Linked DNA regions of Homo sapiens: all the other regions are linked to region 1. Evidence: fine-mapped expression QTL. A gene starts in region 1. Each other region holds a variant in brackets. All regions are shown on one strand. Distances are from middle to middle.

The links.
Region 2: its variant is fine-mapped to the expression of INPP4B in fibroblasts (GTEx, PIP 0.98).
Region 3: its variant is fine-mapped to the expression of INPP4B in whole blood (INTERVAL, PIP 0.97).

The regions. Positions count from the first base shown.
Region 1 is chr4:142,841,321-142,849,677 of GRCh38, reverse strand. It overlaps INPP4B (inositol polyphosphate-4-phosphatase type II B), which reads left to right and starts at 3,377. Exons shown (of 26, transcript NM_001101669.3): 1 at 3,377-3,469. All of the region lies in intron 3 of USP38-DT (USP38 divergent transcript), which reads left to right. RefSeq lists an enhancer at 2,034-2,620.
Region 2 is chr4:142,404,951-142,412,950 of GRCh38, reverse strand. It overlaps INPP4B (inositol polyphosphate-4-phosphatase type II B), which reads left to right. Exons shown (of 26, transcript NM_001101669.3): 6 at 7,627-7,745. Among named protein-coding and RNA genes, the nearest start is that of INPP4B, 440 kb to the left of the region's middle. The variant G/A (reference allele first, on the strand shown) is at 4,902.
Region 3 is chr4:142,695,936-142,704,100 of GRCh38, reverse strand. The region is part of intron 2 of INPP4B (inositol polyphosphate-4-phosphatase type II B); the gene reads left to right. Among named protein-coding and RNA genes, the nearest start is that of INPP4B, 150 kb to the left of the region's middle. The variant G/A (reference allele first, on the strand shown) is at 4,300.

The DNA.
Region 1 (8,357 bases):
CCATCCCTGGCCAAGGTTGTTGGCTGGGGTTTGGTAGCTGGAAGAATCACAGTACTTGGAGAATTTGGAACTGGTTCACAAGTTATAAAGTTTAAGAGTCGTTAGCCACCATGCAATTTAGTGCACACCAGAGAAGCAGAGAGTGAGACAATGTATGTGGGGAGAGAGAGAAAGAGGGAGAGAGATACAGAATGGGACAGTTAATGTAGTGGGGGAAAAGAGACAGAGAAAGTTCTAATGGCCTGTCTGTTTCCAGTCATTCCTAGTGCCCAGTTGCATTCTTGTTTTGGGGTTCCATGGGGCAGCCAAGTATCTTTACAATAATTTATCCTTTTTACTTTAGTTCTTATTTCTAACAACATCCCCCTTAATTTAAATACACACAGACATACACACACAATATACACACAAGAGATGATGCTAATGTATACATAACAAAGTTTCTGTAATTTTTAAGTTTTTAAAAATTGAGATGAAAACAAGGACTTACTTTACAAGTTATTGTTAACATAACTGAGTAAGCATTAAAAAACCTATATGATGCTTGGTGCTATATTCTAGAAGAGATTTTGAATAGTGAAGGATCATAAAAGTAGATATGATGTCATATTAATCTCACCTGAGATAAAAATCTAGAGGAACAATGAATCTATGGAGAGAGTGTAGGCTGCTTCACTGCAAAGGCGAGTGTGACACCAACCCTGTAGATCCTGGCTTGATTTTATTGCTTTAGACAGCAAGGTAACTACAGGGAATCACCTTTGACTTCTGGCCCTACAAAGATATTTCAAAAGGAAATGAAAAATATTTTGTCCTTCATTGGCAAATGGAGTTATGTTTTGGGGGTACAAGTCAGCAAAAGTTCAAGGTTTGTAAAAGTGAATGCTGAATGAGTTTATTAAACCACGGAAGCATCTGAATCCTCCAGGCTTATTCAAGGAAAAAGCCACCAAATAACTAAAAAAGGTAAATATCAGGATGATTGATGGATTTTTAAAAATGCCTTGTGGTACATGCATCTGATGGCATCCTGATTCATATTCTCTCTTTTCTGAGAATTCAAACTTCCTACGTGATGTACACAAGTAAGTCACATATTCTTCAGCCGCCCTGTAAAAGGACTTTGTCAGCATGGTCCATGTCTGGACTTTAATTATAATAGGGTCCTCTAAGCATCTCACTTTAAACGTCCATTTCCATAGAATCAGTAACTGCATTTATTTTACAACTCAGTCTTTTAGGAGGTATGGTTTGGTATTTCTGGCATTGCTGCTGTAGTCTTCATAAACACACACACGCACAGACACACACACACACACACTCTTCCACTTAGAGGACAGATATGTTAACCATATTTCCAATTTAGTAGCAAAGCTCTGACATCCTAATGTCCTGATATTATTTCAATCTCTCTCTATTGTGAGAAAAATCAGAAACTGCCCAGTGAGAAAGTTGTATCATCTTTCCAGCAGATCTCTATGAACACGGCTTACCCATTGCTTGGAGATGGGTGTGTTCAGTGCTGCCCCATGGAGGAGAAATCTAACTGTGTGAAGGCTTCTCAAAGCTGATCCACATCTTGACAGGGATTATTTGTTCCTCACTCTCCTATCTCTCTGCATTCAGCTCACTTGGGGTAGAGGCTGAGCATAGGAGAAAAAGCTTGAAGAGAAGCAAAAGGAAGGGCTTCGGGGGCGCCAAGCAGTTTCTGGCCTATAGTGTTTATTATTTGATTCTATAAACATTTATTGAAACTACAGAATATTAGGTATTGTCCCAAGCTCTGGGAGCAGAGTGATGAAAAAAATAAATGAAACGAACAAACAACTCCCCCCACCAAACAAAACAAAACAAAACAAAACAAAACAAACCCAAAGTCCCTGTCCTCATTGGCAAGGCTTATAATGTGGTGGTCAAAGGTTTGAGGAGTGAAAGGATGCCTAGATGCGGGCAGTGACAGCAGGGGTGACAGCTGGGGGTACATACAGCTTCCTGGTTTGTGAAACTGTTAAGCCCCGACTTAACCCAAATTGATTTCACTGTCCTGACTTTGAGATTCCAGTCTTTTTGCATGGCAAATGTAACACTTGTGTACAAGCATTCGTACACTGCTTTACTTAAAATGTGATTTTAAAGCGCCCTCAGGGAGAAGGGCTGGGGTGTCTTGATGGGCTGGCTCTGGGCACCTTTACCTTTGAACGGCTCCATCAAAACCTTTCCGAGAGAGCCGCCAGGTGGCACCTGTAAAGCGCAGATGGGGAGAGTCATTTGCCCCACACCCTACACAGCCCGGAATAACCAGGGTGCGTGCTTTCCCCTGTGGGCTTGTTAGGGGCTAGGAAGTGGGGGAGTTTTAGTCTCCGTCCAGACTGCTTGCTTACATACCCCGTTTTCCTGATACCCCAACACATTCAGGGCGGATTTGTCCCCACGCACCCGGGATATCAAAGGCATGTCATACGCTAGTTGGGAGCATCTCGGCCTCAGTCACCCGCCGCGACGTGGGAACTGGCGGTGGGTGGCCGAGGGCTGCTCTAAGCTGGTCTCCTCAGCCCGACCTCTGCCCGGGGCAAGGGGGAGGAGGGGCAAGAGACAGGGGTCCCAGCGCGGCTGCAGACTGGGGTCCAGCAGGCGTGAATGGATGCCTAGACGCAGGCAGTGACAGCAGGGATCCCAAGCCCCTTCCAAAAACCCTCGGTCTAGGGACTGCGCTGCCATAGGCCGGGGTCTGGGGCGCTTTCTTCCTCCCGCGGGTTCTTTCTCTGTGGTTTCTCCTGCCCCCGCAGCAGCGTGGCGGCCTCGGGTCCCCCCTCGTCGCGGTAGCGGTGATCCCACAGCCCAGTCTGGGTGGGCGACCCAGCGGGCAGAGGGGCCGCAGAAAGGGGTCGGGGTACGGGGTGTGAGCACACGGAGCCAGCGTGGTAATTTCGGGGTGGGCAGCCGGGCCACCATCTCCGCTCTATCAGTAGCGGGAAGCGAGCAGCGCCAGTTGCGCGACTGTCGCTGCCACGGCCGCCTCTACTCGGTCGCTGGTGACATTGGGAGGAGACCGCTTGGAGAGAGCAGAGGAGGAGGAAGAGGAGCGGGGAGGGTGGGGGTTGGGGTGGAAGAAAGTAGCAATTGTGCCAGGGGGCGTGTGAGCAGCCGGAGAGCCAGCCGCGCTGGTGACAACTTCTCTGGGGCGCGCGCGGGGCTGGTAGGCGAGGAGCGAGCAGGGAGCGCGGCCGAAGCCAGAGGCTGGGGGAGCTGCTGGAGCCTCGCGAAGCCGCGGCCGGCGCCCTGCGCCGTCGCCGCCGCCTGCTAGTTTCCTCCGGGTTCTCAGCCCCGGGTACTGAGGCTTCGGTCTATAAATAGCAGGTTACAGCTCCTCCTGGGCGCGCACACGCTCACACGCTCGCAAGCGAACGCAGGAAAGTCAGGCTAAAAGTGTCTGCTGCTGCTGCCGCCCCCCACTCCGCCTCCGGGAGAGGTAATTACCCGCCTGGGATCCTAGGGCTCGGTGGGGGAATTTTGCAGGGTGGGGTGGTTGATGGTGGGTAATCCGGGAGGCGAGGGAGCGTGTCTGAGAGCGTGGCGGCACGTCTTGGAGGGGGGAGCCTGTCTGTTTTGCATCAAGTTTCTCCGTCTTGCAGCCTCCATCACCCCTCCAGCTCTTTAGCTTAAAGGGTGGGGTGGGCTGTCTCTCCTCGGCTGCTGGGGTACCCCTGTCACCGCGCCTACCCTCTCGCCGAGCGCCCCTCTGCCCGGCGCGCGCGCGTTTTCGCATTCTCACTCACACACGCACACTCTCCGGGCCCCCGTGGAACTCTGAGCTCTGGCCTCGCTGACCTTCCAAGGCTGCGCCCACCTGCGCTGTCCCTGAGAGACGCTGAGGTTGGCCCGGGCACTCGCTCTCACTTCCAATCCTGATGATCGCAAGCTGCCGCCGCCGCCGCCGCCGCCGCCGCCGGCCTGGGAAGAAGTCCTTAAGGAATAGAGGCAGTGGTGGGGAGTGAGGGTGACTGATGTTGGTGGTCCCGGTTGCCTTGTTTTTTGTTTTAAAAATAAAGAGCCCATCTCCTTGACCACCTTCATCCCACCCTCAACAACTCATTCTGGCAGAGAAGCCTGGCATGTCTTCTCTCGGCCATCAGGCAGCATCTCTTGTCCTTCCCCAAAGAGGTCTCGCTGAGAGGTTAGGGCCTTGGCGCAAGAGTGCCTGGGTTTGGACGGGGGAGGTCATTGTTTCGGGTCTGAGAACTATGCTGCAGGCTCCTCAAGCTCTCTGGCGCTCAGGCAGGGCCCAGGGCCGGGGAATGTCTGGGAGCCTGGTTCCTGAATGTAGTTTCAGGCTGGTAGCTGATATGAAGATGAGGATGCTAGAACCACATATACCTGTTTTTCCCCCTCCCCACGCTTCTGAATTCTCCCTTCCTTGGGGGCAGTAGTTTCTGCTCCTGGGGAGTCGGTGGAGAGGGGCCCAGCAGTTTCTCTTTGGGGACAAGAGGGTGAGGAAGCACATATTGATTAGGTTGTTGCTGCTGCTGCACAAAACTTACTGGAAAAACCCGGTAGGGTTTTCTATTACTCTTGTTTTAAGGATGTAAATTTACTCCTTTTCCTCTTTTATCTTCTCCCTAACCAGAACTAGTTTTCCTTTCTCTTTCTGGAATGTTATTTGAGGTCATTATATTTTATGACTCCAGATGTTACATTTTGCATATCTCCTTCCTGTCAGTATGACAGACAGAACTTGTTTATAAAGGTGTGGCTCTGTAAGTAAAAGCCTAAAGACAGAGGATAAATTCATCTTCTCTCTCTCAAGATGAGCTCCAGATAGTTCTTTTATAGGTGTACAACTACATTTCAAAGACCTTGCTTGAAAAAGGACTTTTCTTAATGAGTTCTGGACCAGAAATGGTAGTAATCTGACTCAATGATAAAGCAGCGCATAAGGTGCAAGGAATCATCAACAGGGCAGCTGGCTGATGATGTGTAAGAAGTTGAGTAAAGCAAGGACTGGGCAAGTGGGCATTGTCAGTTCACATACTATGCACAGAAATGCATCCTCTCCTTTACGCATTGATGCACATACATGCATTATGTGTTCCTTTGTGATATAATCCTGTAAAGCATTGATAGGAAATGATCAATAGTTTTGTGAAAGGTACATGGGCATTGAAGGTTGAACCTCGTGAATTTGTAGTAATGTAAAATGCTATTGCAAAATGGATTGCTTTTTCAGTGTATTTCCTTAAAATGTGATGTAGAAGATTGTCCTTGAAAGGTTATGAAATGTGTGTGTGAAGATAGGCTAAATGCTCAGTGACATTAAGAAACATGTTTGCAGATTGAAATACTGCTCTTATTCTAGGAGAGTATTCTCTTTGATTAAGCAAATCAATATTTATTTGTGATAAAATAATGATCACTATGATGTGCATATTTATAACTCAAATTTGCTTTTGACTCTTTATAAAGTGTAAGAACAACCAGATAGACCATTTAGTCTTGTCCCTCTATTTAAAGTAGCATGCAGTCAAAGGTATAGGCAGAAAATACTTTTAAAATGTTGTGTTTGAGCTTCAGTTTGGGGCTGCAAATTGAATGACTTCATGTCTCATAAGATTTTTGTCAAAATACTAAATCGCTCTACTATCATAGACCATCAGTTAAACTTGATTATAAAATAATGCTATTATATTTTAGTTGTGTGAAATGGAAAATCATTAAGCTTAGGGAAAAGCCAGATATTTGTTCTAAATTGTGCAAATTGAAAGTAATTAATTCCTTTCTGAAACCTTGGAGCATCTTCTAGTATAAGTACTATAAATCCCCAGATGGGTAACAAAGTTAACTTTCACTACCTTGAGGGAGAACCCAAGATGACAATTCTCTGAAAGACAGAAAAAAAACCTGCTAACTGATCTTAAAACTCATAGCAACCAAATGAGTGGCAGTTTCTAGGTAAGTATTTGACATCTGAGAACAAAAAGTTAAGAAATTATGGAATCATAATTAGTGAGTAAAATGCTTACTGAATATCTATTACATTTTCTTATTTCATACTGAGTGATGCCCAGTAGTACTAATATTAGATATACAAATATCATACCTAATCTGTACAAAATAAATTTTTGTCTTTCACAACTATGGGGATTTTAATAGATAGAAATGCCCTGTTTTAAATAATCTCAAGTTAAATGTTCAGGTGAAAGCTGTGTGAGTCTCTTCTGTATTATGTACCTTAGTTTTTCAACATGTCCTGTATATCTTTCTAAAGCCTTAAGGAATCTTTTCCATAGGCCACTTTGTTAATACTTTTAAAAAATGTTGAGCTAGAAACCTTTGATTAGAGAGCTCTTTAGAGCATACTCTAATCATATATACTATAATATTTAGGCTTCAGAAATGAGATTATTAAATAATTTTAGTTTAAACATTTATTTTTAGATGAATCCAAGTGATGATGCTATGATTGAATTTTGTTGTGCAAGATACATGTAGTCTTTGTGTTCTAAAACTTTAGAGCAGTATATACCTAGAAAAGATCAGTATATACCTAGAAAAGACATTAAGATATGTGCAAAAATTTTAATTACTCTTTCAGTCTCAGGCACAATGGTCACTTGAATCAAACTGTGTTAGTTTATTTTTTTAAATATATTTTCACTACCTTGTAGATTAAAAGAAACATTTAAAATGTTTAGGAAATTTTATGGACTACATTATATATAATTTATATATGTATATTTATATATATCCAGTATATTATATATAGTATATATATTATTATATATAAATATATAATAATCATATATATTTATATATATCATTATTTATATATATTTTGATATATATGATATATAAATTTATATATATCATACATATTTATATATAATTATATATTTATATATCAGTATATTATGTTAGGATTATTATAGATATATTATATATTATATTAATATTATAATATATTAATATATTATATTTATATATTATATATTATATTAATATATTAATATTATATTATGTTATATATTAACATAATATATTATGTTAGGATTATTATATATAAATATATTATATATTATACATATAATAATACAATAACTATCTTATATATCATATATTATATATTATATATAATAGATATTGTATATATTATAATATAATATATGTAATAGTTTTTTAAATAAGGCACAGTTGTACTCACTATCTTATTTCTTATTTCTTGGAAGTATCTTGCTATCAATGGTATACCATAAGGCCAATGGAATATCTAGGAGCCAGAACTTTAGATTTTTTTCAATGGACTGTGTAATTTCACCAAACATTAGCTATTATAATAGATGTCATTCCAGCATGATGTGAATTGGGTTTCAATACAGTATATGTCCTTAAATAATATATTTCAAACTGAGTTTCTTGAGTTGCAGTATTTTGAGTAAATTCTATCTTCTGTATTAGGCAGCCATGCCAACTTGGTGTCCTGATTTTAAATAGCCCTATGAAGAACTAAGTGAAATAGAATTGGCAGTAATTTGTTTAAACTGATTAAAGGAAATTTTGAGAAGTTTTTCAAATCATGTGGTTTTGGTTATACATTTCTTTGGGAATTATCTAAATCAATAATATTCAAGGGAATGAAGGCAACATCTCCTCCCTTAAAAGGAGAGCCTGTATCTATCTATCTGTCTATCGATCTATCTATCAATCTATCTATCTGTGTCTATCTATCTATCTTTACATACTCTTCTGGTTATGAAAATAAAGCAATACAAAAAACAATGGTGAAATTACTCAATTGTTTTTCTTTGTTGTTTTACAAGGATAGAAAAGTTTGCGAGATACACAGACAACTTTAATTGTCATGCTGACTTCTAATGATTGGAGTAACAGCATCAATGTAAAGCATCTTCCAAGATCAAAAGAAAAATATGATTTTTAAAAATTTTCATTTACTAGTTGTTTATAATAGATCATTTATTTATATATTTTAAATAGCTTTGAAGGAGAACTTCGAGATTTTTATGTTTCTCAAAAGAGAGTGTGAGTTTTTAAATGTTAAGCAACAATGATTTACAAGGAATCCTCTTAATATTTTTTACTATGAAAAATTTGACAGAAATATGAGCCTTTCACCTTTCACCTTAGTTCTTAGAATAGATAGTTGTAGTGCATTAAGTAGATCAGACTTGGGGACTACCATTTTAGAATACAATGAATTAAATAGAATATACTCCCTGACCATCAATAGCAATCTTTCCTTTAGTTCTTTCAAAATGGTTCTCATTCATTTTCATGGGGCTTTGCTTTCTTAGCCAAAAGATCAGAGATGAGCTCTTGCCATTAGAACAACCAAAACACAAAAACTA
Region 2 (8,000 bases), 440 kb after region 1:
AGAGCAGTGTGTGCTTGACTCCTAGAGTCCCAAGTCTTATAAAATATATGAGTGGTGACTTTGATAACCTCGTCTTTCAGAGTGATGAGAGTAACACATATGTTGGAGAGGAAATATGAGATGGCAGAGAAGAGAAGAAAAAAGAATAATGTCAAAGGAAAATTATAAAAAGCAGGCTTGCCCGATTGAAAATAAGCTAAAATGAGAGGAAGGACAAGATGAGAGCTACTCTCAATGAATTAAAGACTCAAAGATTTTACAGAGAATACAGAAGAAAGATGGGAGGATATATATTCATGGCCATAAATCAACTCAGCATGATATAGAGACATATTCTTCTAAGAAATAACCATAAACAGATAGTAGTGAAGAGAGTATTTCCAACTGCTTGTGCAATTCTCATTGTGTGGATATTAGTATAGGCAGGGACACTGTACATTCTGTCATTTTACTATATATAATTGAATTATCATGGATTGTAGTGCACTGAGCCTAGGAAGCATCCTCTTCTGAATGTACTCAGGAGATCTGAGCTGGAGAGGTTGACATCCTAGGCTTCAGAAAATTGCTGTCTTAAAATTCTTGAGGGGAAGGAAGAATAAAAAACAAAAAAAGGCAAAGGAGATTAAAAATAGAAAAGCATATTATACTAATAAAGTAATTAGAGGGGCTATTAGGCTTTTTAAGTGCTCTATATATCTTTTAATGTATGATATAAACTGATTTAATCTAGATGTAATCACTGGTATAGAATGTTAACTGTGAAACCATATAATGGAGTCCAATAATTTATTGGACTGGAAACATAACCTAAATTGGCTTATCAGTTGATTAGTGGAATCTAATTTTCTGAAGTACAAAGAGGAAGGACATATATGTGACAGTTTTGAGAAACCTGAACAAACATTAAGAATTTCTGAATAAAAAACTGCCCCCTAGGCTGCAAAAGTCTTTTGCACATCCTTAGGGAAATGATGTGAGATAAGAATGGTGCTATTGAGGGAGGTGGGAAGCCAAATGGTATTTCCCTAAAGCTCTGGGTTTTTTTGTTTTGTTTTTGAGACAGAGTCTCACTCTGTCACCCAGGCTAGAGTGCAGTGGTGCAATCTCAGCTCACTGCAATCTCTGCCTCCCTGGTTCAAGTGATCCTCGTGCCTCAGCCTCCCGAGTAGCTGGGATTACAAACGCGCATCACCATGCCCAGCTAATTTTTGTATTTTTTGTAGAGATGGAGTTGTGCGATGTTGGCCAGGCTGGTCTCAAACTTCTGACCTCAAGTGATCCGCCTGCCTGGGCCTCCCAAAGTGCTGGGATTACAGGCATTAGCCACTGTGCCTGGCCCCTGTTTGTATTAAGGCCACTTTTCTATTCTAGGATGCCAATGTCCTCTGTACTCTGGCCCTTTTTGCTCTTAACAGGCATGGATTTATCTCTCCCATTTCTCCTATGCAGTGTCTGTAGAGGGCATAAGAGGTGAGCTTTCATTAGATTCGAAGGTATGCTTCTATCAGACTATATTGGGCTCTAGCTGTAACATTTAGTTTTAATTGCAAGAAAAAGAAGCTTTATTAGCATCCATAGTCTTCCTTTTTGATGAAGGAAATGTACAGAGCAGAGAAGCAACTCTTTCCCTGACCCTTTGGGACATCTCAGTAGTTAAGCAAGTGCTCCCCTGTGGGCCATCATCCACTGAGTAATGGAACCCTAACCTCCTAGTTAAACCCCTGCTTAAAGGGTGAGTTGACCATTTACATGTAGCACATATGCTGGGAGAGAGAAAGTCAAGTTTGCTTTCTCCATTGTAAGTTTCTCATTTGGAAGTACCTCATTAGAGGTGAAAATTACAAGTGCAAGTGTACACATCTGATTTCACAGAAAGCAGCATATTAATGATGCCTCTGATTTTCACAATTAACACATGATCTAGTAAAGAGCTTTTAAAAATGTATATTTAGCTATCTGAAAATAAGGTGAAAAAAATCACAGGTATATATTTAACAAATGCTTTTATTGAAAAAAGAATAACTTTATATAAAATTAGGACCAATCTGGAATATCTTGAGCATATGATTAGTATAAAAATATAGGATAGATAAAATCCATTTTTTGTGTTAATGCACAGTATAACTATATATTAATGTCAATAATAATTTAAAGGGACTCATATATTAGCATTCTATATACATTACCTTATTGTCTTTATAGCAAATTTATGAAGTACATTCTTTTACTTCCATTTTGCAGATGCTAGAATAGAGATTCAAAGAGATTGAGTAATTCATCCAAAGTCATATATAGCTCTCTCAAATAAGGTTTTATCTTAAGTTAAAAAAAATTTCTTTATCCTCCATACACTATGGTATGTGGTTTCTCCTCTAAGTCTAAATTTCCTTTGGCTAATTTTGAGTACAGAATTGTAGAGATGTGGAAATTCTTGTCATATCCCCCTCACTGATTCCCACGCACCTGTGGCCACTGCTTTGTTCTGGAAGAAAGAGGATAAATTTTGTTAGATTCCATTAACAATGAATGGCAAGAAGAGAGATGAAGTAAGAGTGAGGCAAGAGAAAAGACCTCACTTCACAGAAGAAAGTTTTCTTAGGGGGAAAGAGATGGTCACTTGGGGTTGACCACCAATTCACAGTGCCTCAGTGGTTCACACCACCACTCTCGTGAAAGCCTGGGGCAGGCATCTGCTTGTTGACACCCCCCTTGTCTAATGTATGCTTTACAACTACTTGAATTCGAGCAGTGTTGCTGAACTCAAAAGCACCTGAATGAACAGTTGTGTTCTACTTCAAATTGATTATTGCTGAGACTGAGCTCTCTGATGTGAATCAAGAGGTATTTTTAGGCTTCCAGCCAAAATTGGTTGGAATGATAGAAATGATCATGGACTCAATAGCCTTCACCTGATTTTGAAATAATGGCCACAGGAAACAGAAACTGATATTTTATAAAAAGCAGTATTTTGGTATAGACAGTATCTTTGATTTCACAAAAATCCTGAAGAGTCCCACCTTTTAGCTCTGGACTCTCCAGTGAGAACTACTGGAGCAGAAGAAAATCTGTGCCCTCTTCCTAAGAGGCTAGGTAGTAGCTGTAAGCGTCAAGACTAGAATTTGGCAATTTCTATTCCTCAGAAAAACTTCTGGCCAAATCTATCAAACAGATGTATTTTGTGCAGCTGTTCCAGTGTTCACCTGCACAGTGACTGGGGATTTCAAGCTTTGGAGAAATCCTAAAATCAAGGACACAGTGGGCCTTCATTTTTTCAGGCAATGACTTTGTATAGAGGTTCCATCTTATGACATAGTGTAAGCTTTCCAGTTTGTTCAGTGCCTAGCCCTCCCTGGACATATTGAGTCTTTATTTGTTTATTATTTTTTGAGATAGAGTCTCAGTCACCGGAGATATTGAGTCTCTTTATTTATTTATTTATTTATTTATTATTTTTTGAGAAGGAGTCTCGCTCTGTTGCCCAGGCTAGAGCACAATGACGCAATCTCGGCTCACTGCAACCTCCGCTTCCCGGGTTCAAGCGACTCTCCCACCTCAGCCCTCCGAGTAGCTGGGATTAAAGGCACCCACCACCATGGCCAGCTAATTTTTGTATTTTTAGTAGAGATGGGGTTTTGCCATGTTGGCCAGGCTGGTCTCGAACTCCTGACCTCAAGCAATCTGCCCTCCTTGGCCTCCCAAAGTGCTGGGATTACAGGCGTGAGCCACCGCATGTGGCCCCCTCCATTTATTTTTATTATTATGCTTCCACTGAGGATTTCCTTCTCGTAGAGTGAAAACTGCCTGGCTCCTGTACAAATATGAGCTGGGGATGCCTGTAGGCATCTCACTCACAGCTACTCATAGTAGAATGTGAACCCTCATGTTACTAGTTACCATAGCAAAAGTAATCAGGAAATAAAAAGTCACTTATTGCTCTTTATTTTTTTTCTGATGACAAGTCACAAATTATGGTTTAAAAATATATTCCTTCTGTATTATTATTTTTCCCACATTTCAATAAAAAATACACTGGATACAAGCACACTAGAATCCCCATCTATCAACATCCTGCATATTTAAACTCTTCTGAGGTCTAAGAACACTTTTAAACAATTCAATACTAAGCAAAGCCATTAAGAAGGCAGAAATTAAAAATCTACTGATGAATGAAGGATTGCAGTAGCATTTGTTTGTTACTGACCATTAGATTGAAGTGGGTAGAATTCTTAAATAAACAAAACGAAACAGAAGCAAAATCCCAAAGCATTGCTTTCTTTTAGTCTTCTGAGCTGATGAAGGCCACAGATGCAGGCCACTCCTAGAGTAGAATTATATTTGGTTAATGAGCAGTGGTAAGTATAGCTGGAAGACAGATATAACTTTTTATTTATTTATGAGACAGAGTCTCATTCTGTCACCCAGGCTGGAGTGCAGTGGTGTGATCTCAGCTCACTGCAACCTCCGCCCCTGGGGTTCAAGCAATTCTTGTGCCTCAGCCTCCCAAGTAGCTGGCACTACAGGAGTGTGCCACCACGCCCAGCTAATTTTTGTATTTTTAATAGAGATGGGGTTTCGTCATGTTGGCCAGGCTGGTCTGGAATTCCTGATGTCAGGTCATCCTGGCCTCGGCCTCTCAAATTGCTGGGATTCCAGGCATAAGCCACCTCACCCATTCACTTTTTTTTTTTCCTGAAAACAGATTTTTCAGGATTCTTTATTGGCTGCTAAATAATTCTCATACGGATTAGATTTTATAGTGATCATATGAGTAATATCTTCACAAAACAATCCAATCACTCATTATTTATCAGCCGTCTGGTGGGACTGATTCAGTATGTACAGATCCATGATGTGAATAGGTTTCACCTTATGAAATGCAATGACTCATGTACTAATTT[G/A]GTATTTATGAAGAAATATTGGACCTGGTAACAGCTTTTAAAAAGCTGAGTATGACTGAGTCAATAAAAACAATTTTACACAATAATAAAACACCAGATATTGGTAAATGTTGATATTAATATATATTAGTATGATATTAGTAAACTTTTTTTTTGCATAGAAAAGTCCATTTATAAAAAGGCCCAATTTCCTCACTTCCACCCTGAGAGGTAGGTAGATAGATGAGGCAATTAAGTGTCAGAGTTTGTGACTTACTCAGTGCCACAGAACTAGAAAGCAGGAAATCTGGGAGCACAGCTTAGGAATTCTGCCTGATCTCGGGTTCTCTCCAGGATATCATGCTGCATAAGACTTAGGGTACAGTAAATCCTCTGAGCTGTAGGAAGAAAAAAGTGCAGCCCAAGATGTAACTATTATTGTTTTCCTGACAAGATGTAACCGTATTGTTTTTAGATGTGGAATATAATAAAAATACAAAGCATCATCATTATTTTTATCAGTATTAGGGAATGTGCAAATTGGGTTGGACAGAACATTTCAGTGTAATAGAAATTTTCTCTGTTTTTATGGGGAACGAGGGTGAGAGTCTCTCTGATAAAATGGAGAACAGCTGCTCATTTCTGGGAAATAACCACAGCCCACAATCAAGTCTGATAAGAACTCAGAAAAGAAGTGACTTATTTTGAGCAAAGGTGTCATGAGCTCACAAGGTAAAAGATGGGGCTACAAGCAGAAAGTGGGCAAGATGCCTGTATTTGAAACACAGTGGCCTCAGCTTTAAAATTCTGATAGATATATGTCAATATCAGGAAACGGAAAAAGAGCTGTTTACTGTAAGCAGAAAACCAACAGTTGAATTTTATGAGCAATAAAATTAAACACATTCATATTGCAAGTAAAGGAAATGATCAAAATAACCACCAAAGAACAGTGAAAATCTAAATCTAGCTTTTTCTTTCCTTCCGGTGATACGTTGACATTATTGAAACCTGGCACCAGTATTTTTTAAAACTCTAAGTCTCTTGGGTTGAGTAATAATCGTGGTGTGGCGGTGGGTCTTCCAAAGAGAGGTGCCATTGTGCAGGAGGGCAGGTCGGCATGCCAAGAAGAGAAATGAAGCCAGTGGGGTAGGATGTAAGCTACCAGAGAATTCTAGTAATGTAAATGTGAGCACTTCATGTTTCCAAGCCTCTAGTTCTAGTTCTATGTAAAACTGAAATAATTCAAAGCACCATTTTAAGGAATAGAGAGATAATTAGCAAAATGCCTCAAAAATAGTAAGGGTTAAATACATTGTAGCTATTATGTTTTTTCCATACATGCTTTCATAAGCTCTCTTCTGTTACTAGAGGCATGTGGTTTATATAAGGAAAAAAAAGTATATGACAAAACGCCATACAGAAGCAGCAGGATCTGAAAGTCTGGTAAGAAGTTAAGCAGTTAAATAATTTTCCCAGTGTTGCCTAGCTATTTGAACTGGACTAAAACCAAGCCTGTTTCATTCCGAAGTTCCTGCTTTTTCTATCTCCTTGTACTTCTGAAAGAGATTATCTGTAAACAATTGAAAGGTGATAATTGCATCTATACTTTCCTTTGCTTTCAAGTTTCAGATTTAAGCCATATTACCTTTGTTACCAATGGTAAGGACCTTGCAAGCTCTGACCACAACATACCTTAAATACCTCATCTTTCTCTCCCTTCCTGTTATGGTCTGAGAAGTGGGGTAGGGATGGTATAGAACCCTGCATGCCCTCACCATGAAATCAAGGACCCAGGGCTACTTCCCCCATCCATAGCTCCAGCCTGCAGCAAGCCACCAGCCGAATTTAACTTGAACCACCTCTAGTGAGGGCACTTTACATCTCAGCAACTCAGCTGAAGGGAGTAAAATTATTATTTCAAAGGTGGGAGGCGAGGGTGGCGGGGATAGAGAGGAAAGTCGATTCAGACTTGCTTAAAAGGAATATTTTTCTGGATTTTTCTTCCTCAAATTGGGGGAATGATATGTGAGAGGAGAAAATATTCAAGTAAATATGGTATGGTGGCGAGGGTCTGTAATATGAGCCTGGTGTCTCAAGGGAAAGTTTTTAACTTTTGTGGCCCCTGGGCAAGAATTAACCCATCTCCTCCAGGCTTAGCTTGAATTCCAGACCAGGGCTTTAAAAATCCTACCTCTGCTTCCTCTTCCCCTGCTTGTGTGCTGTTGTGGTTGAGAAACTGCTCTCCTTGTTTCTGTTGGTGTGTATTACTGTGGGAGGCCAGTTCTAGTGAATACATAGGTAAGGACCAAGTATGAATTCAAACACTTGATCTAATCCAACCCATGTCAATAAGGAACACCAAAGTTTCCCAGATATGGCCCAAATCAACTTTCACATCCTCAAGGAGTGTGACTTAAAGCCCAGGGCTTAATGGCTAATTAAAGTCACTGAGGTTTCTGAGCCATGTGTGCATAGTCACGCATTAGAGCTGGGATCTCAGACCAGTAAAGACTTGCATGAACTGCAAATGTGGTCAGTGGAAATGAACTCTCAATTCAGCTCCACAGCACGTGACTTCCTATTTCTGTAAGGTACTTCCAAGGGACTTCCTCTGTAAAACCAGCCTGAGCCCCAGGAGATTTCCTTCAGTGCTGTAGCTAAGTTCACTTTCAGCCCGGCGCAGAAGTTTTCCCTGAGATATGGTGTTAGTTTCTTTTCTTTCTGTCTCCTCTGCCGTTGCCAGCATGCAAGGATCTCGTGGCTCCTGTCCGTGATCGTAAACTGAATACACTGGTGCAGATCTCCGTAATCCACCCCGTGGAGCAGAGTCTGACAAGATACTCCAGCACCGAAATTGTGGAGGTGAGATGCTGTGTGCCTACATTAATCTCTCTCTCTCTCTCTCTCTTGCTGGCTCGCTCGCTCTTGCTCTCTCTCTCCCTCCCCCCCACCCCCGCCCCATCTCTGGATTTGAATGAACAGCTGAAATAAGTTAGTTCATAGTCTGTAGCAATGCTGCATTACCATCCTCTGTCATTAAGAAGCACATACCTGAGATTATTAAGCAATGCATTGGTAATTTACTAGAACGAACAAATGACAAAATAACTTGTCTTT
Region 3 (8,165 bases), 150 kb after region 1:
CTGTGTTGCTGGTGAGGCCTTGAGTCCTCTGCTCTGTGAAACACAGCTTCTTCTAATAGATATTCCTACCGACACACTCTCATTGGTTTTGGGGAGGTACCACCCCATTTTGCTTCTAAGGTCAGTCCTTGCTCCTGGCTAGTTAAGTGCCAGATTTTGGATACACCATCTCCTTCCACACTTTGAAGGTAATGTTCTCATACTGGGGTGCACCAAATGGTGGAGCTCCAGAAATCAGCCACTCTTCTGAGTTACTAGTCTGGTGCTGCTAGTTCACTTGTTTCCTGAGTTAGCCCCCTTTACCTACTGGAATGCATCTGGTCTTCTTTATGCTCCAGAGTTTGGTACCAATGCATTCTGCCCTCAGAGAGGAGCCCATTTTTATCCCAGGATGAACTAATTCTTTGGGGTACTAATAATTGCAACATTCATTCTTTCAGAAACGATGAGACATGCTGTAGTAAATTAAGCTGCCCCAGAGAAAACAAGCTTTTTATTTATATACCCATAAACATCAAACCCTATGTTCCAAACCTGCTAATTTGTTTAATGGGACTCCCTGGACTCATCACTAAATTTGGGAGCACATTTTTCTTTTATTCTCCTGAAGCTCTTGTTCTCTCTAGCCTTCTTAACAATCTGTTTAAGGCTGGCATTGTCATCTCTGCCCCTCATAATGTTCCTTTAATAGTACTTCTGCCATAATAGTATTGTGACCTAACCATTGAATCTAACTTGCTGCAGAATGTATTATCATTATTGTAAGGTATTTATCTTTTTAAAAATGGAAAACTATTTATTAATTTAAAATTCTGAGATTTCAAATACATACTTGTTATTTGTGAGAAAGTGGCTGTGTTTGGAAGGGCCAATACAACAAGTTGAGGACATTGTGAGAGTTTCATTTACATTAACTAATGGATAAAAATGGCCTTGAAAGACTCACAAAGAGGGCAGGAGAGAGAGTAACAGGTTCTGTACCAAGTTTTTTCACAATCTCTTCCTTTTAATCATTACATATTGTCTTCCTTTGGCAGGTGAGGAAATCGAGCTGATAGAAGTTAAGTAACTTGCACAAAATAACATGGCTACTAAGTTTCTGAGCCAAGCTTAAACTCACATCTTATTAATTCCAGAGCAAGTGCTCTAGATAAACTAGTTTTTCTTCAACATGATAGATATTAGCACTTGTTGATAAAAACATCTTCAATGTTATCTAACTTCAGATGTAGTCAGCAGCAAAATCACTAATGCTATGCAACCAAATTAGGGAAATTTTTTTTTGCAGAAATCAATCTTTATTTAAAAATGTTATAGTTTGTGAACCCAAAGTAAATTCAAAGTTCTTTTTTTTTTTTTTTTTTTTTTTTGAGACGGAGTTTTAATTTTGTTGCTCAGGCTGGAGTGCAATGGCGTGATCTCGGCTCACCGCAACCTCCGCCTCCCAGGTTCAAGTGATTCTCCTGCCTCAGCCTCCCGAGTAGCTGGGATTACAGGCATGCACCACCACGCCCAGCTAATTTTGTATTTCAATTTTAGTAGAGATGGGGTTTCTCCATTGTTGGTCAAGCTGGTCTCGAACTCCCAACCTCAGGTTATCTGCCCGCCTTGGCCTCCCAAATTGCTGGGAGTACAGGCGTGAGCCACCGCGCCTGGCCTCGAAGTTCATGCTTTAAATCATAATCTAGTGAAGAGATTTCTATTTTTATGTTTTTGCAATAAGTAATTAGGCTTTCTGGAATATGCTAAAGACTGGAATAAAGAAGAGTAGATGATTTTTAAGAGGGTCTCATCAACAAGAATTCTGTGAACCACACACAAGAAATCAACTTTACCCAGTGCCTATATGGAGTCTTTTGTGTCCAATTGTAACAAACAATTTGAACTTGAAAGAATGATTTTTTTTTTTTTAAAGAAACTACTAAAGCTTAAAGAGGACAAAGCCATGAAAGCACAGAAAAGATGACAGGGTCTGTGTGTGGGGTTACAAGCCAGGAAAACCTTGTATTGGTAAGACTGCTAACAGATTGCTCAGGCTCCTAACTTAGGCTTGACTTGGCTAAGCTTCAGTGTGAGTGGGAGCCTAACTCTTTCCAGTAGTCTGATTTCACCTAGTTCATTTTGTGTTGAACTCTCATAATATGTAATAAATGTGAGTACATTTTTAGTACTAGTATATATAGTATAGTAGACATCAAAATATCTAGAATATTTGAGTAAATACAAATATTTATTGTGTTCATTCAATTTTGAGAAACTTCTGTAGTTCACCTGTGTAGTCAACCTACCCAAGTGTCTATTTGATAGATGTCTAGAAGGGTTTATCACCTACAGTACCAGATTTTCAGGCTCTCCATAGTCGACTGTGTCCTCTGCACATCAAGGTAGAGGTACTAACTCCTTACTCCTGAGCTTGATTATAAGCAATGGTTCAGGAAGGTATCTAGTAGAAGAAATGGTCTTTCAAACTAGTGTTTAACAAAAAATTCTACAATTTCATATATATTAATATGTATTTGGTGAAATAGAAACAAGCCCAAACTGTTACCAAGACAAATCCCTTTTTCTTTCCATGAAACCTTTTTTTTTTTTTTGGCTGCTCGGTGCTGCTTGTTATTATTTTTCATTTTCAGCATGTATCTGATGATCATGCCAGCCTGATTGCACCAGTTAGAGTGTGGCTGCCCTTGACCTGATTGGATCCATGTGGCATTCCTTTAAGGAGCCTTAGAGTTGACCTTCCTCATTCTCCTGGCTATAATACATCATTTCCACCCTCTGTTTTGGGGCATCTCCTACTGTGGAGAGGCTGGCAGGAGGGAGTACCTACTAACCAGTATGGAGACCAAATGGGTGGGATATCCTCTCCTCTTTGGAACAGTCAGTGGTAATTATGACATACCTTGTTTACCACCTGCACTTTTCTGAAACTTTCAAGTAGAGGCTGCTCCAGGAGTGGCAAGCAGACCAGTTTGCTCTTGCCATATAAACTTTTCTGTGATTCCTACTTTCTTGGGGCTCCATTCCTCCCACCAGTTCCCCAAGACTGGCCTTCTAGCCTTTCATTAATGCTGTTATCTTTCCAATAAATTTTCTTATGGATTAAGGTAGCCAGAGCCTGTTTCTTTTGTTTTTGATCTATAGCCCTGACTGATACATGATCTTAACCATAATGTGTTCTGAGATAATAAATGTTTAAATCATCTGGGTATCAATATTTTATAATATTTTAGGTATAATATTATCTAATAATCCTTGGCCCAGATAGTTTTTATACTGAAAGCTGGTATAAAAATATAAATTCATTTCACTGATGCACAAACACAAAACCACACATAATTTCACAGAAAGGTCATGTGACCTACTTCTAAGAAAAGATTATAATCTGAGATAGGAAAATGCACCTGCTGCAAAAAATAAAAAAAAAATTTCATGCAAATAAGACAGGGCAAAAATGAGTTAAAAATTGGGCAAGTGTACAATGACTAGCTGTTTTCTTAAATAAGATTGCTCTTTTCTTTCCCAAAAGATGGAATGAAGGGGTTAATAGAATTTAGAACAGATACTTTGAAGAAAAGAAGTAATTCTCTATCCTACGATGGAAATAAGTACAATTCTATAGGAATCTGATTGACTGGTTTCATCTTCAATTCCTATAGATTGAGTTGAAGGAATACAAGATACAGCACAAAAAAGAATTATAAAAACCATATTCAACTCAGTACTGTGAATTTATGGAAAAGAGAAGCCATAAAATGTGTCCAACTAGTGCTCTCATTATTTAAGTTAAATTTGGTGCCTTCATTGTAAATAATAAAAAGTTTATTATTACCCATATCCATGTATTGTTCAAATTCCTCATTTATTGTGACACTAGGTTTTTTTTCTCCCTGTTGCGGTTTTAGAAGATACTACTTGGCATCATCAGACTTTTGATAAAGTGATGAGTCCCAAAGCTTGATTGGAATGGTTTCAAGAAAGGATTGGAGAAGAAAATTTGAAAACCATGAGTATAGGCAAATCTAGTAAGATGCTTTACTATACAGGGAGAGAGAGAAAGAGGGTGGTTGCTGAATAAAATTTTTTTGTTTTGTTCTTTTAAGATGGGAGAAGTAATAGATTGTTTGTATGCTGATGAAAAAGAACTGGTGGAGAGGGGAAAACTGTAGAAAAAAAATGCTAAAATGATGCCCTTGAGTAGGCAAGAGGAGTTGAGATTTAGTATAAATTGGAGTTAGTTTTAGACAAATGCATATAGAGTTGACTCACAATGATGGAGAAGAGGCAAGATATACAAGT[G/A]CAGATGAGGTTGTTAAAAGGGTCTAGATATTGCATACCTTTTGATGGGAGCTTGCATATCTTCCAGTTGCTTATATTTTCTTACTGAAATAGGAAGCACAGTGTCAGAGAGACATAAAGATGGAGGGGGTGTCAGATGTTTAATAGGAGACAAAAGTATTTAATAGAATTTGAGGTATATGCATGAGTGAATGGATCAGGGATGTATAATATATTTGCCATTGAAGATAAAGATCATGGATATAAAGCAACGCTGGCCAGTATGGTTATGGGATTTTCTCCAGACACATTCAACCACACAGGTAAAAGGACAGAGTAGGTGGAGCTCTGTGATTTACCAAGCTCTGTGATTACCAAGCTCATGATTTTCCCAAGTGAGCATAATGAAGCACAAGAGAGTCATGGTAGTTTGAGGTATAAAGATATGGCTGAATGCAATAAACAACCATGACATTTAAGCTGGATAAGAATGGAAATGAGGACATGAGGAGGGAAGGTATATTGAAAAGGTGGTTGTACAATGGATTGTAGATGTCAGGGGCCAAGCTGAGCTGGAGAGAGCTGTGCTGTGCTACCATGCTTCAGAATAGCTGATTATGACAATAAACCACAATGAAATAGTGCTCTAACATTTAATCACTCACTGTGATAGTATAAGCAAGAAGCTAAACCAGAGAAAGTTCTGACCACTGTCTCTACCACTTCCCACTTCCACCCCACCCATGCACCACCTCTGTCCATTTTACCCGTGAAACAGTACTGGATATCTGAGGGTCAAGTGAATCAATACATGTGGGGAATTGCTTTACTGCTGAGGGAGTCTTGAACAAAAGTCTCCTTTAGTTTTATATACTAGGGGCCCAGGGAAAAGGGTGAAAAGGAAGGGGTAGGAGTAAAAAATTATTGAGCTAGAGTGGAGAAAAGTGTCTTCAAGGTTCCCCTTCAGCTCCTCCAAATGATAAGTTCTTAGCAGAGGTTCCTGAAGGCCTTCTTGCTGAGCTAAGAACACGGATATGCATAAGAGCATGGCCAGCCCTGGGGGCTTGAGTCTGTGACTGCAACTCCTTTCAGCAATGCACTAGCTGCACACCAAGTCTGGTATGAGGAAGGTAGTTCAGGTCTGCCAGGAAAAGTCTTTGTAACTGCCTGGGGTTAGGCCTGAAAGATCACAGTAGGTTTTTAGCCAAAACCCAGATTCCTCAGTAGACCCTGATGCAGCTTAAAGATTGTTGGACACAGAATGGGAGTTAGAAAAATTAGGAAATGAGATGCTTGTGATTGAGATCTGCAGAAAGTCCAGATATTGGTAGTGACAAGATCTAGGGTCTGGTAATGAAAATGAATAGTCCTAATAAAGTGGAGACAATCATTTAAGACAAAAGGCAAGATCATATCTGTGGATATTGAAATCTCAAATAGTTATGACAAGAATAACACTGGAAGGAGAAATGGTGACCTACCCTTTCAGTGCTAAGATTTAAAAATTAATCTCGTATGTCTTTTTTTCTATGAGAAATAATTTATGAAAACTCTATTGATTTCAAATCAATAAAAATGATGGATTTGTTTCAGAAAAAAATTGTTTATAACTTGTAAGATCTGTAACTTAATTGTTTTCTCTTACTGGTAAGGGCATGTTCATGCTAACAGTAGCCCTATAGCTGTGGTTACTTATCTTAATTACAGCCAAGATTTATTTCAGCTTGAGTGTTTTATAAGCAGATTAGAATTTTAAAATTTTCACAGCCAGTCTTCTTGCATTATACTCTTTTTAAATTCAAGCATGTTTCATATTATAAGAAGCTAACCTTAAATTATAGCCCTTGTTTTGTTAAATATTCAGTATTCTAGGAATTTGAAATTCTCAAATGTAGTCTTTAAAACTCTGAGTTTATCTGATAAGGATTTTATTATTATTGTTATTTACATATGAATACAGGAACAAAATGTGATTTAAGTAAGTCATGGCCTAGAAAGGGATTTGTAATGTCTTGGCCCTATTTAAGAACTTTTACCCATGCCTCATGTTCTAGGATTTCTACTTGATCCAGCTTGGAAATCTGAATAACTCATGATATTGGGAAATTTCCATGGCTGCATTTTCTTCAGTTCCTTGCTTGTAGCTCACCTTTGTCTCCTGTTTTTCTTGTAGGTTTCCAGTATATGCTTTGGCCATATAAAGTAATAAAGCAAATAAGTTCCTATCGTTTAATCATATAGAAAAGCCCAGCAAGAATCCATTGTCCAAATCTTGTTTGATTAAGATTGATTGACAGTTTTATGTAATTGGATGACATTTTTAAGAGAAAATCAACAGAACATTATCACATGGTTAAAGCCTACTGCCAGAAACAATAAACTTGGCTTACCTATTTCGTTAGAGTATTATTTTGATTTATTCACTCATGTATATAATTCACTTTCACAGTTGATCCCAGACTCTGTTTTTATGAATGGCAACTCAGAGAATTTAGGTAGCTTTTCTGGGAGCAAGGTTGATGGCATTGGTGTGGGTTGGGGAAAGCCTAACAGTATTAAAAGGGAGAATGATATAGAGGTTGTTCATCCCATGTTCAGTTACCGATGTGTTTTCACCAAAACCATATAATTTAAATGTCTCCTTTTCCTGGAAAATATGAAGCATTGTACAACAGGTAATTTTAATAACAATGTAACTTAGGCTGCTTATGATTGACATCAACATCACATGTATATAATATGATTGTAAGAATTTTTAAAAATGCATCATTGGGATAATAAACTGTAACTGACATCCTTTTAAACTAAAAGCAGGTGAAAGCTTGCCAGTGTTCCACTCTCTCTGACTTACCATTCTAAGAATAAACACATACAGTGGAGTGTGCGGGGCTGCACACTGTGGTTTTATCTACTTCCTTGCTAGAGGAAAGCACTGTTATAAAAACAAGTAAAACATGCAAAGGGAAGTAATTTAATAAGTAATTTTACAATAAAAGAATGGAACTATAAACCTGCTTTTCTTGGACAGCCTTGGTGTTATCCAATTTGCCCTCTTACTGAGCCTCTCTACTGGCTGGCTGTAAAGGACATGGTGAATTAGGATCAGAAGTCGATGGCTGTGTAGTGCCTGGTTTTGAAATGTTTGGAGAACAACATAAGTAGTAGCTGATGGCAAGGCAGAGGGACGCAGGGTTGAGTGGGCACTGCAGATGCCAGGATGACCCAGTTTAAGTGGGTGTAAGCAGTGAAGTAAGCAACAAAGTTGGGCAAGCACTGAAGGTGTAGTTTGTGTAGGAGACAGATGTCAGGGCTGGGGTGGGGAAAGGGAGTATCTGTACCACAGAATTACAGCCTGGGTCAGTTAGTGCCTTGCACTGATGTTTGTGTATATTTTGTCCCCTCAGCTAGATTTTATTACTCTTTGGGGGTGGTATCCTTGTTTATAATTGTTCCCTTGAGCTGCTGGGCACAGTTATGGAACAAGGTGGGTTGTTGCATGAGGATCTCTTGGAAAGTTCTCCTGGGGCTTTCTGGCCCCTTGAGGATGGTATAAATGCTAGTAGGACCAGGCACACTCTCTGTCTTATCAGACACATGGAAAAGGGCACAGAGGAAATGATCTGTTTTAGAATCAGAGTGTGCCTTAATCCATCGAATATGCTGGTGTCATTATTTGACTTCCTGGACTGTAAACACTGCCCTTCTAGGCTCCTGGGACCTTTCTAACCTTTCCTCGTCTGATAACTTTGTCAATACTCAACATTTTCTTGCTCAATCCAGGGGCACCTGTCTAATTCTCCTAGTCCCAGCTGGCTCTCCTTGAACTTGATCTGTCATCTGATCCACAGTGTCTAGGTTTTGGATTATCCTGGCCCGCCTTTCCCTTG